3 linked regions of the Homo sapiens genome follow. The protein of the gene in region 1 interacts with the protein of each later gene in a pairwise test. Each region holds a gene or a part of one and is shown on either strand. Other genes may lie near its edges.

Region 1 (3,600 bases):
AGGATCACCTGAGCCCAGGGAAGTCGAGGCTTCAGTGAGCCGTGATCATGCCACTGCACTCCAGCGTGGGTGACCGAGTGAGATCTTTTCTCAAAAAACAAAACCAAAAAGAAATCACAGCAACGTGAAGGTTAAGGCTAACTTTTCAAACATCAGAATCCTGACAATGGTTGCAGTAGCTTTCAAGGAGACATGGTGTGTGGCCAGCCCCTCCAGGGCTGTGTGGACAGCTTTTTGTGTATTTTCCTGGGTGACTCACAGCATCAAAGGGAGAAAGGAGGTAGTAATTGTTCAGCACTTGACATGTGCTTGAACACTTCGTAATCGCAATCCTGTGCCAGGCAGTGGCACCATCTCCCCTTTTTAGATGAAGAAACCGAGGCACCGAGATAAAAAGTAACTTGCTCAAGGCAATTTAGGAAGTTGTAAAACCAACCAACACATATGGAATGTGTATTATCTGCTAGGCTCATTTAATATCTCATCTGACCTTCCAGATACCCATCTGATGTAGGTACCACTCCCAGCTCCAATTGTGAGATTCAGAGGGGAGAAATAACTTGTCCAAAGTTGCACTTGGTTAGTAAGTGGGAGAGCTGGGGTTGCGCCAAGGAGTCGGATGCCAGAGTCCATGCTGTAACACCACTACCCGGCCCCCTGCACCTTGCTGTGCCTCACCTGGCACCTGTGCTCCGTTCTAGGGCTCTGGAGGCCACGGGCATGATGCTTCGGGTCCTGGTGGGGGCTGTCCTCCCTGCCATGCTACTGGCTGCCCCACCACCCATCAACAAGCTGGCACTGTTCCCAGATAAGAGTGCCTGGTGCGAAGCCAAGAACATCACCCAGATCGTGGGCCACAGCGGCTGTGAGGCCAAGTCCATCCAGAACAGGTGGGACCCAAGGGGTGGGTGGGGGGATGCGGACAGGGGTCCAAGGAGGGAGGAAGAGGACCAGGGCTGCCCATCCCTGCCTCCCCAACAGTGACACAGGCATGGTGACCTCTCCTCCCACAGGGCGTGCCTAGGACAGTGCTTCAGCTACAGCGTCCCCAACACCTTCCCACAGTCCACAGAGTCCCTGGTTCACTGTGACTCCTGCATGCCAGCCCAGTCCATGTGGGAGATTGTGAGTACTGCCTGCCTGCCCCACCCAGTCTCGGCCCGGAGCCTGCCCCAGCCTTGGCCTTTCTCCCCAGGCTCCTGTATTCCAGCAGATGGCCACAGGGCCTTAGAAAGGCCCCACTGTGTGCAGGGTGAAGGGCTTGTGCTGGGGATACAAATGTGGGCCTCCCCACAGGATGGCTCAGAAGTCTGACACCAACTTGTACAGGACAGGGATGTTCCCGAAGTTCCATTCTGATGTCTCTCATGGGCTGAAGTCCTTTCAGGGGCTTCCTGTTGTTATAGGATGAGACCAAAATCTTTGCCCTGTCCCGAGAACCTGGCATGGCCTGGCTCAGTGGCCTTTCCAGCCTCCTCCTGCTTCCTGCCTTCCTTAGTAGCTTGACGCTTAACACAGCCACCTTCTTTCAGTGCCTCGCACCTGCTCCGTTCGCTTCTACCCCAGGGCCCTTGCACCTGTTCTTTTCCCTGCTTGGAACACCACCTCTGTCCCCTTTCTCTAGTTCACTTCTATTCATTCTTCTGCCCTTGGCCCAAGCAGCGTTTCCTCAGGGCCCCTTTCCAGGCCCCCTGACTGGGGCACACCCTGGTACCGTTGGCTCTCAGAGCACAGTATGCCTCCGCTTCAAGCACCTTTCACACCTGCAGTCTTCCACCTGCATCCGGGTGATTTTGACAGATCTGTTTCCCCCACTAGACTCTGATTTCCTTGAAGGAAATGTGTCTTTGTGTCCCCAGAGCTGGCACAGGGTAGGCGCTCTGTGGAAGGGAGGAAGGAAGAGAGGAAGGGAGGGAGAAGGAAAAAAGGTACTTAGATGGGTGATGATAGGGGCAGAGTAGGAGGTAGATGGGGTTCCTGCAGGGTGAGCCTCAGCTGGGCTGGGCTTTGGGGTGGGGCTCTTTTGAGGAAGTGAAGTCTGAGCTCAGACCCAAAGGCGCAGTTTAGGGCATGTGGTAGTCGGCGGGGATAGGGGGGTGGGTGGGGGGAACCTTCCAGGCAAAGGGAACAGCATGTGCGGAGTCCCTGAGGCAGAGCCCAAGCACAGGATTGGTAAGAGTGGTGCAGGGTCAGGGGTAGGGGGGCCAGCCAGCTGGTGGCACCTGAAGGTCCTGGGTGGCCTTAGTGAGGGGTCAGGGTTTGTCTCCAAGTGCAGGGGGATCGCGGCGGTGGGGGCGATTTTAGCAGGGGCAGGCCACACTGGTGGCTGCTGGTGGGGAATGGGTGGGAAGGTGGCAGGACTGGATGTGAGGAGACAGCTCTGGTGGCTTGTGCAGGGGTTCAATTTCCCCCTCCCCATGGGACCCCAGAGCTAACTGGGCATCACAGGTGGGCTCTGGGATTCTTGATCCCATGAGGAAGTATTACCCTAGGGGCTGCCTTGCCTGCCCCAGACCTTTGGGAACATGCCTCTGCTTCTCTCTTGCCCTCTGCAGGTGACGCTGGAGTGCCCGGGCCACGAGGAGGTGCCCAGGGTGGACAAGCTGGTGGAGAAGATCCTGCACTGTAGCTGCCAGGCCTGCGGCAAGGAGCCTAGTCACGAGGGGCTGAGCGTCTATGTGCAGGGCGAGGACGGGCCGGGATCCCAGCCCGGCACCCACCCTCACCCCCATCCCCACCCCCATCCTGGCGGGCAGACCCCTGAGCCCGAGGACCCCCCTGGGGCCCCCCACACAGAGGAAGAGGGGGCTGAGGACTGAGGCCCCCCCAACTCTTCCTCCCCTCTCATCCCCCTGTGGAATGTTGGGTCTCACTCTCTGGGGAAGTCAGGGGAGAAGCTGAAGCCCCCCTTTGGCACTGGATGGACTTGGCTTCAGACTCGGACTTGAATGCTGCCCGGTTGCCATGGAGATCTGAAGGGGCGGGGTTAGAGCCAAGCTGCACAATTTAATATATTCAAGAGTGGGGGGAGGAAGCAGAGGTCTTCAGGGCTCTTTTTTTGGGGGGGGTGGTCTCTTCCTGTCTGGCTTCTAGAGATGTGCCTGTGGGAGGGGGAGGAAGTTGGCTGAGCCATTGAGTGCTGGGGGAGGCCATCCAAGATGGCATGAATCGGGCTAAGGTCCCTGGGGGTGCAGATGGTACTGCTGAGGTCCCGGGCTTAGTGTGAGCATCTTGCCAGCCTCAGGCTTGAGGGAGGGCTGGGCTAGAAAGACCACTGGCAGAAACAGGAGGCTCCGGCCCACAGGTTTCCCCAAGGCCTCTCACCCCACTTCCCATCTCCAGGGAAGCGTCGCCCCAGTGGCACTGAAGTGGCCCTCCCTCAGCGGAGGGGTTTGGGAGTCAGGCCTGGGCAGGACCCTGCTGACTCGTGGCGCGGGAGCTGGGAGCCAGGCTCTCCGGGCCTTTCTCTGGCTTCCTTGGCTTGCCTGGTGGGGGAAGGGGAGGAGGGGAAGAAGGAAAGGGAAGAGTCTTCCAAGGCCAGAAGGAGGGGGACAACCCCCCAAGACCATCCCTGAAGACGAGCATCCCCCTCCTCTCCCT
Region 2 (3,820 bases), on another chromosome or scaffold:
CAAGGCCCTCATGCCCAGGCTGACTAGTGCACTCATAAGCCATGTCTTTCTTCTCTAGCCCAAGGGTGACCCTGATGCTTGCTAGAACCGGTAATGCTTGATCAGCCGGGGACTCCGAGCTCCATGAGCTTTCTGCATATCCTGGTTTCTCTTACATAATTAATGTGAGCATCAAATCTAGTCAATTTACTCTAACTGGAAAACAGCTAGGGTATATTACTGGATCGCTTTCTTAAAGGGCAAGGATGACAGATTAAAATAGAAATACAAGGCAGTAACAAAGAGAAGCAACGCATTTTTCTGAAATAATAAAGCCCCCACGTCCTGCTCTCCACCCTGCAAGGGGGCACACATGCTACAGCAGGCGGTGGACAGCAAAACAGCAGACGGCGGCATGATCTGATGGTGCTGCAGGCCGGCCCGCCCATGTCCTGGCTCCGCTCCCACTGCGCCGCTGGGCCAGGCCCCGCCCACACCCCGCCCCACCCCACGGCACCGCTGGGCCAGGCCCCACCACACCCCGCCCCACGCCACAGCACCGCCCCCTCGGCGCAGGACACGCACGCAGCAGCAGGCGGTGACGGTGATCTGGATGGTGTTGCGGCCTGGCTGGCACACATGCTTCAGGTAGAGTGGCTTGTGCGAGGTCTTGTTGTCGCCACGCTCGATGGTGAGCGGCGTGGCATTGACGCTGACCTGCACCGAGGCTGGCCAGTTGGTGTTCATCTGCCGGTCCTCGTGGTGGTAGCACTTGAATTGCAGCTCCAGGTCAGGCCTGCTCAGGAAGATGGGTGGACACCCAGAAAACGGGCCCTGAGAGTGTGGGAGGAGGAACAGAGCCTCGTGGGGGTCAGGTGGGGGCCAGGCGGAGCTCACCTCATTATCAGGGTCTTGTAGACTGAGTCTCGCAGCTGGAAGACATGGTTGCTTACAGCCAGGTTGTGCTGCAGGCGGAAGGGCTCCAGGACCACCCCATCGCGCACAGGGAAGGTCAGCCGCAACTCGTCACAAGGCCCGCTTCCTGGGAGCAGAGGCCACTGGCTGTGAGCTGGGTTGCCCCAGCCAGAGCGTCTTGTGTCACTCAAGGAGGGCAGCGGCTCCCCAGCCACCTTCCCCGCAGGGACCTTGGTGAAGGGAGCCCCTCCTGTCAGGCACTGCTTGGCAGGCCTGAGTGGTGCCCTGGGGCTGGGGCCATGGGCAGCATCTCTCCTGAGGCCTGGGCATTCGGTCGTGATGTTCTGTCTTGCCTCCTGCCTCAGCAGTCCAGCCCAGTGTCCCCTAAACCATAATAGGGGAACATGTCCCCAGCCCAGACAAAAGGTGTTTCCAGTGCTTTCAGAGAGACTGGGAGGCCAAGGTGTGTGAGAGCCTCCTGCAATTGCCCTATAGCTCTGTTTAGAGTTCTACGATCCCAACTTCTGCTGCTGTGGTCTCCCTGGAATGGGCTTCCGGGGTTCATAAATCCCCTGAAATTATATACAACATTTTGTGCACAGGGGAGAGAAGAGCCACAGCCTCCTTTGCAAAGAAAGCCACAAACAGAACAAAAAGGTGAAGGCTTGGCACTAAGCGACTTGTCTTTAAGAAGATGGAATCCTTGGCCTTTTTTTTTTTTTTTTTTAAGACAGGGTCTTGCTTTGGGACCCAGGTTGAAGTGCAGTGGCAAGATCACACTCACGGTAACCTTGAACTCTTGTGCTCAGCCTCCGAAGGTGCTGGGATTACAAGTGTGAGCCACCACACCCAGCCCTTTTCTTAGGGATATGGCAGCCATCCCCTGTCCCCCAAGCTCCTACAGGACTCTCTGGAGTCCTGTGATTCCCCCATGCCCACCCTGGCCTTGTCACCCCGCTGTCCCAAGAGTGGACAGACTTACCAGAGGGCGATGAGTGCAAGGAGTTGAGGTTGGGCTTGAGATCAGGCAAGAAGGGAGACTTGACCTCTTGGTTTGGTGACATGTAAGGGACGCTGCTGCTTGGGGTCATGGGTGGCGTGGGGTTCCCTGGCAGTGGGGAACTGGGATAGCCCGGGATGGAACGGGTAGGCTGTAGGGTTGAGCACAAACAGTCAAGGCAGATTGCCAGGGTGGATGGGAGTGGAGTCTGTTCACGGCGCACCCACTGGGAACCATGATAACAGAGGTGGACAGGAGGCGGCCCCAGGGGTGCCTGCCCGGTCGCCCTCTCTCCATATGCCCACCCTGTGAGCCTCCCGGCCCATCCTCCCGGCCAGGCCCCCTACCCCACTCAGGCCAGGTTGGCTGTAGCTGACGCTGCCCCCGTTGAAGCTGGCGCCCTGCCCGTTGAACTGCTCTGTGGGCTGCGGGAGAGAAAACTGCATGCACCTGGGGCTCCAACCTGACCCCTGCCGGGCCCCCTGGACCTGACCCTAGAAGCCCACCATACACGGTCTTCTTTACACTCTCTTGTATTTTCCAAATAATCTACAAGTAACACTACTTAAAGCAATCATAGCCACAGAGGAAAATGATCAAACAGGTTGGAGGGGCTGAAAAGACAAAAGCACGCTAAGCCCTCCTCCTCTCCTCCCCCAAGCTGCACCACCCGGCGCACCCAGGCTCCCAGGGAGGTAGGCTCTGCCCATGCACCCAGAAAGGGTACATGGCCAGCAGCGAGGGCCTGTCCTCTCAATGGATTTCTCTGCAGCAAGTAGAAGGAATGACACTTTTCCATAAAGAACATTCAAATGTTTTGGGTACCCACCTGCTGCTCCCTGCACAGGATACCCCTGAGATATATGAATCTTGTAGAGGGTCCTTTCGGAACTGGATCCCAAACCCCAGGAGCTGCTCCTGCACTGGTCAGAATGCCCCCACCCCCCACCCCCCATCTCCTGTAGAGCTGTGGTCCATGAGCACACATGGACCTACACATCCTGCTGGCCCCTTTAGCCACCCTGTCGCTCTCGAGGACAGGACTGCCCCAAGGTCCCCTGTCCCACAGCACTCAGCACGGAGCCCGGCACAGGGCCTGGAGGAGCCTGCCCTACCTTATAATGCAGTCCCGTGGGGCCAGGCACGGACAGGGACTGGGTCATGCCCTGCTGCAGGGGCAGCCTGTGCCCAGGGTAGGAAGGGGAGGGGGCAGGGGGCTGCCCAGGGCTGGGCGCAAACTGGGCGGTGCTGGGTGCATACTGGCCTCCTTGCAGATACTGCTGCCCTGGATACACCTGAAAAAGAGGCAAAATGCCCGAGGGGAGAAAAAAGGCATCAGGGGAGCTGGTTCCAGAAGGAAGTAGAGTCTCATGTGTGGCAGGGTTCGGGGAATGGAGATTTCCTGGTTCCCTTGAAGATCCTGCTGTGACACTGTCAGGCACAGGCAGTTCTCACATGCAGAAGCCTGTTTTTTTTTTTTTTTTTTTTTTTAATTTGAGACAGTCTCACTCTGTTGCCCAGGCTGAAGTGCAGTGGTGCAATCTTGGCTCACTGCAGCCTCCACCTCCTGGGTTCAAGCAATTCTCCTGCCTCAGCCTCCCAAGTAGCTGGAATTACAGGTGCACACCACCACGCCCGGCTAATTTTTTTTTTTTTTTTTTTGAGATGGAGTCTTATTCTGTCACCCAGGCTGGAGTGCAGTGGCATGATCTCAGCTCACTGCAACCTCTGCCTGCTGGGTTCAAGCAATTCTCCTGCCTCAGCCTCCCAAGTAGCTGGGACTGCAGGCGCCCGCCACCACACCCGGCTAATGCTTTTTGTATTTTTATTAGAGATGGGGTTTCACCATGCTGGCCAGGCTGGTCTTCAACTCCTGACCTCGTGATCCACCCGCCTTGGCCTCCCAAAGTGCTGAGATTACAGGCG
Region 3 (3,698 bases), on another chromosome or scaffold:
TAGAACTATGAAGTAGGACACAGTAGTTTCTTTAGGGACACTTGAAGAAAGTAATCATATTCTATTTAATTAGCTTACTCTCCTAGACCTAACAGACTACATCCATAACAAGTACATTTTGTCTAACTTGCAAAAAAGTGCATGGACAAAAATTCAGTAAACGTTTGATGAGAAACTATCAACCCTTAAGAAATGGCAATTTTTATAATCTTGTTCACTTTTATTAAACAGGTCCTAATCCTGAAATTCAGGTACTACGCACCTGCAACTAAAACTGAAAAACAAAAATAAAACCCAAGTGCTTCCTATTCCCCCTACGGGCTGAAAATGGGACAGTGTGACTATCTCAAGTCTCTCAAACACAAAGCCATATTCACTCAAGAGAAATCGTTTACATGTGGTTAAGGAAACAGGAAATTTTCACATTGGCTTTAATATTTACATTTTACCAAAATTTTCCTGAACTCAGTAATCATTACTAACACTTTTTATAGTATTATTTACTGCATCTTAAAAAAAAAAAACTAAGCAGAAAGTGTACAGTTGAAGAAAACTGGATGTCAGTCTATACAATGATTTACTTTTGGCATGACAGACTTTATTTTGGCACTTTCACAAATATTTTGCTTTACAGCAGTGACAAAATATTTGCCAGAAATTTTTCTTTTCCTGGCACGGATATTCCCAGCAGTTGTTATTCTATGAATTGAATTTCACTCTGCTTTGCACAGTTAGAGGTATACCCATTCCTACCCTCTGTAATTGAGGGACACAGCGTGGCTTTAGAAAGCTAGGCTATCGTTTCCTTTTAGTCACTCTAAAGTGAATTGGTTCTGTAAGTGATGGGGCAGGAATCTGAGAATTAATTAAGGCCATTAAGGATTTAAAGTAAACACTGTTCCAAGTGTTGCTTAAAAAAATGTTTTTAATGAATTATGTGGCAATTCCAGGGAATGTTCTCAAAATGAAATATTCATACTTTATTAAAAGTAAATTGTATGTTGGAAAAGTTGCTTTTTTTGCTGTCTTCTTCTGACTTGGACGGCTCACAGTTTAAAACAAAATTAGTGGTAAAATAGAAAAAGGAAATGTTTAGTACAGAAAGTACCAGCCACAGTACCCTCATAACTCCATCTCCTTCCCCAGGCATCACTCTTTCCAGCCACTTCAATCCTAAAGCAGTGAGACCCTCATTTTAACACACAGAGCCTCCCTGCCTACCCTCCTTCCCTGTAACGTGAGCTACTGTAGTCCATTTATTAGTTCTTCGGTTAAGCTTCAGTAGACATTTGGAGCACAATTCCAAAGGTAAATCAATCTATAGGCCTAAGCCTTAGATACCAACATCAGGAAAGCCCCATTCAGATCTTTGGAATTTACAGTCTTGTAAGTTATTTGCAAAAGCAGGCGTCTGTCTTAATATTGCCATCAGTTATCCTATAAAGGTTGCAAACTTCGAAATCCCCTGGCAGCCTTCCAATATCTCTACCTAGACACACACAGGATAATACATTCAGATTTCCTCTGGCCAATTCAGAAGTGAATCTGGTAATAAACAGTCTCATCGACAGGCTCTTTGGTCTTGATTTACAGACACTGTGAAACACTTAGAAATCAAACCCACGTCATCCTTGAGAGCAGACGGCCGTTAGCAAAGGGGAGATGTACATTTGATCAAAAATGTACAAAATTTATAACAGTGACATTTTCAATATTAGGCCACATGATTTATTCAGTAGTTTTTATGTTCCCAAATTACAATTTATGTCTATTCATAAGACTACAAAAGTTACCATTAGAATTGTCTGTGCTTATAAAATACCAACTTTTTTTTTAAACTGTTACATATACTCATTAACACCAGTCTGCAACAAGTTACATAGAATCAGAGGCACTTCAAAGGCTTAAAAAGACGTTTACAACTTAAATGCATTTTTAAGAACAAAAACTGATTTTTCTTTAAACCTCTACTCGTACCTTCAAATTGCAAGAAATTAACAAATACAGTGGCCAAAGGAATCTGCAGCAACTTCTTAAAATACTGTTAACATCTTTGGGTTTGCTGAGGCTTGTCAGTAACTTACATCAAATCCTCCCAAAAGAAGATCTGATTAGATAGATATGACTAAACGGTTTTGTAGTAATAATCCAATTTTACACATTAATTTGCTGTTGCAAATCTGCCCAAAGCTACAGGTAATGAAAAATAAAGCAAGTGTAAAATGGATAGTCTGACACTTAAAAATTTATACAAAGTGGAAGTTAAAGTTTACATATTTGAAAATCACATATACACTAAATTACCATTATCTGAATTTTCCAAAGACAAATTGCACCATGACAGCTACAAAAGGCATAGGGTTTGGTTTTAAGGGCACAAGAAGGGAGGGCAGAGGAGAGGAAGGGGACAACAGATAAATTAACAAAGTAAGACCAACTTGGTAAGGTCAATCTGAGACATGCTGACACAAATGAAACAGCTTTCATCTTTGAGTCATAGGAAAAAGACAATCATTTTGTATTTGCGCATAAAAGTTTAAACCAATTCCATGAACATCGAGGGTTTTCATAACATAATATTTTGCCACTGCTATTCACAGAACACTGCAGATGTTAAATTTTAATTTTATGTTGTTCTAAAGAAATACATGAAATGTTTTAAATACAATGGGATTTTATCATTAAAGTGCCAGAATGGCTCTTTAATGAAAACAAAAAACAAAGATCTTCATTATTCTATGCAAAAGCTTTATTTTGAAAAGTTCAGTGATCTCATAAATAGAGACACTAAGTTGGAGTTTTACGCATAAAACTCCTTAGTAGGTGCCTTCTGATAAGCAGCACTGGATGGTTTGCGTTCTCCAAGGTCATAGCTTCCTTCATCCTTCTTTCTCATGCGATACACCAACAGCAGGATAAGAAAAATTGCAAAGAGAAAGCCAATAACTCCACCAGCAATGACAGCTGAAACAACCAAAAGGAAGATTACTTTAGAAGAGATTCAAGGGTTGCAGACATTAGCTTTATTGTCAAGCCTAATCTACTTACACTTTTATAAAAGGCTTAATTTGAAAACCCCAATAAAAAAAAAGCTGGATTCAATGAAGCAACCTGGTAACTATGCAAATCTGAAACTCCTCAGGAAGGTACAGTAATTTCTTTGGTTAGTGTTAATAATACCACCCAAAAACCTCGATAAGAAAAATCTGGCCTTGATCTTAACTAATTCCATACTTGAAAACTACTTTTGTCTTTTCAGAACTCACATTTCATATTCTAATTTTCTAACTGCTTTTTTTCAACAGAGAACATAGTATAATTGACTTAAAATTTTAAAGAGTATACATGAAAAAAAGCATGCAAATTTATTTCTATTCTTGGATTTGAGACTACCAAGTGTGCCTAAATCTTGAAAGTTTTCCCCTTTAAAATATTTGCACTTCCATCCAATTAAGTTAAAATAGAAACAACGTTCTTAACACTTTGGGCAGTACTTATATGAACTGCCTTCCCCTAAAGAACTTTTCGTTCTCTTTATTTTGAAATGTAGAATGCCTGTGAGCAAGACTGATGGATCTCCACACTCTGCCATCTCTCTACATCCAGTTGTTCTGGATCAATTCAGATGTTAACTTTCCCTCTTTTAGGCTACCTCCTATCCCCTGCCCGATGGCTGGCGAAGAGGTAGGTTGAGGGAG

What was found.
Region 2: the proteins of NBL1 (region 1) and ZMIZ2 interact in binary tests that used the Homo sapiens proteins (3 or more experiments, as listed by UniProt).
Region 3: the proteins of NBL1 (region 1) and SDC2 interact in binary tests that used the Homo sapiens proteins (3 or more experiments, as listed by UniProt).

Annotation. Positions count from the first base shown.
Region 1 is NC_000001.11:19,654,311-19,657,910, forward strand, and holds part of NBL1 (neuroblastoma suppressor of tumorigenicity 1 isoform 2 precursor), read left to right. Parts: intron 1-701; coding exon of another isoform or gene 702-720; coding exon 721-890; intron 891-1,013; coding exon 1,014-1,125; intron 1,126-2,555; coding exon 2,556-2,819; 3' UTR 2,820-3,600. Other genes in the region: MICOS10-NBL1 (neuroblastoma suppressor of tumorigenicity 1 isoform a precursor), read left to right, coding at 702-890, 1,014-1,125, 2,556-2,819. UniProt on the Homo sapiens protein: Possible candidate as a tumor suppressor gene of neuroblastoma. May play an important role in preventing cells from entering the final stage (G1/S) of the transformation process.
Region 2 is NC_000007.14:44,758,650-44,762,469, reverse strand, and holds part of ZMIZ2 (zinc finger MIZ domain-containing protein 2), read right to left. Parts: intron 3,190-3,820; coding exon 3,010-3,189; intron 2,907-3,009; exon of another isoform or gene 2,895-2,906; coding exon of another isoform or gene 2,724-2,894; intron 2,320-2,723; coding exon 2,242-2,319; intron 2,046-2,241; coding exon 1,877-2,045; intron 1,049-1,876; coding exon of another isoform or gene 1,022-1,048; coding exon 877-1,021; intron 776-876; coding exon 565-775; intron 1-564. UniProt on the Homo sapiens protein: Increases ligand-dependent transcriptional activity of AR and other nuclear hormone receptors.
Region 3 is NC_000008.11:96,608,651-96,612,348, reverse strand, and holds the end of SDC2 (syndecan-2 precursor), read right to left. Parts: intron 2,965-3,698; coding exon 2,801-2,964; 3' UTR 559-2,800; downstream 1-558. UniProt on the Homo sapiens protein: Cell surface proteoglycan which regulates dendritic arbor morphogenesis.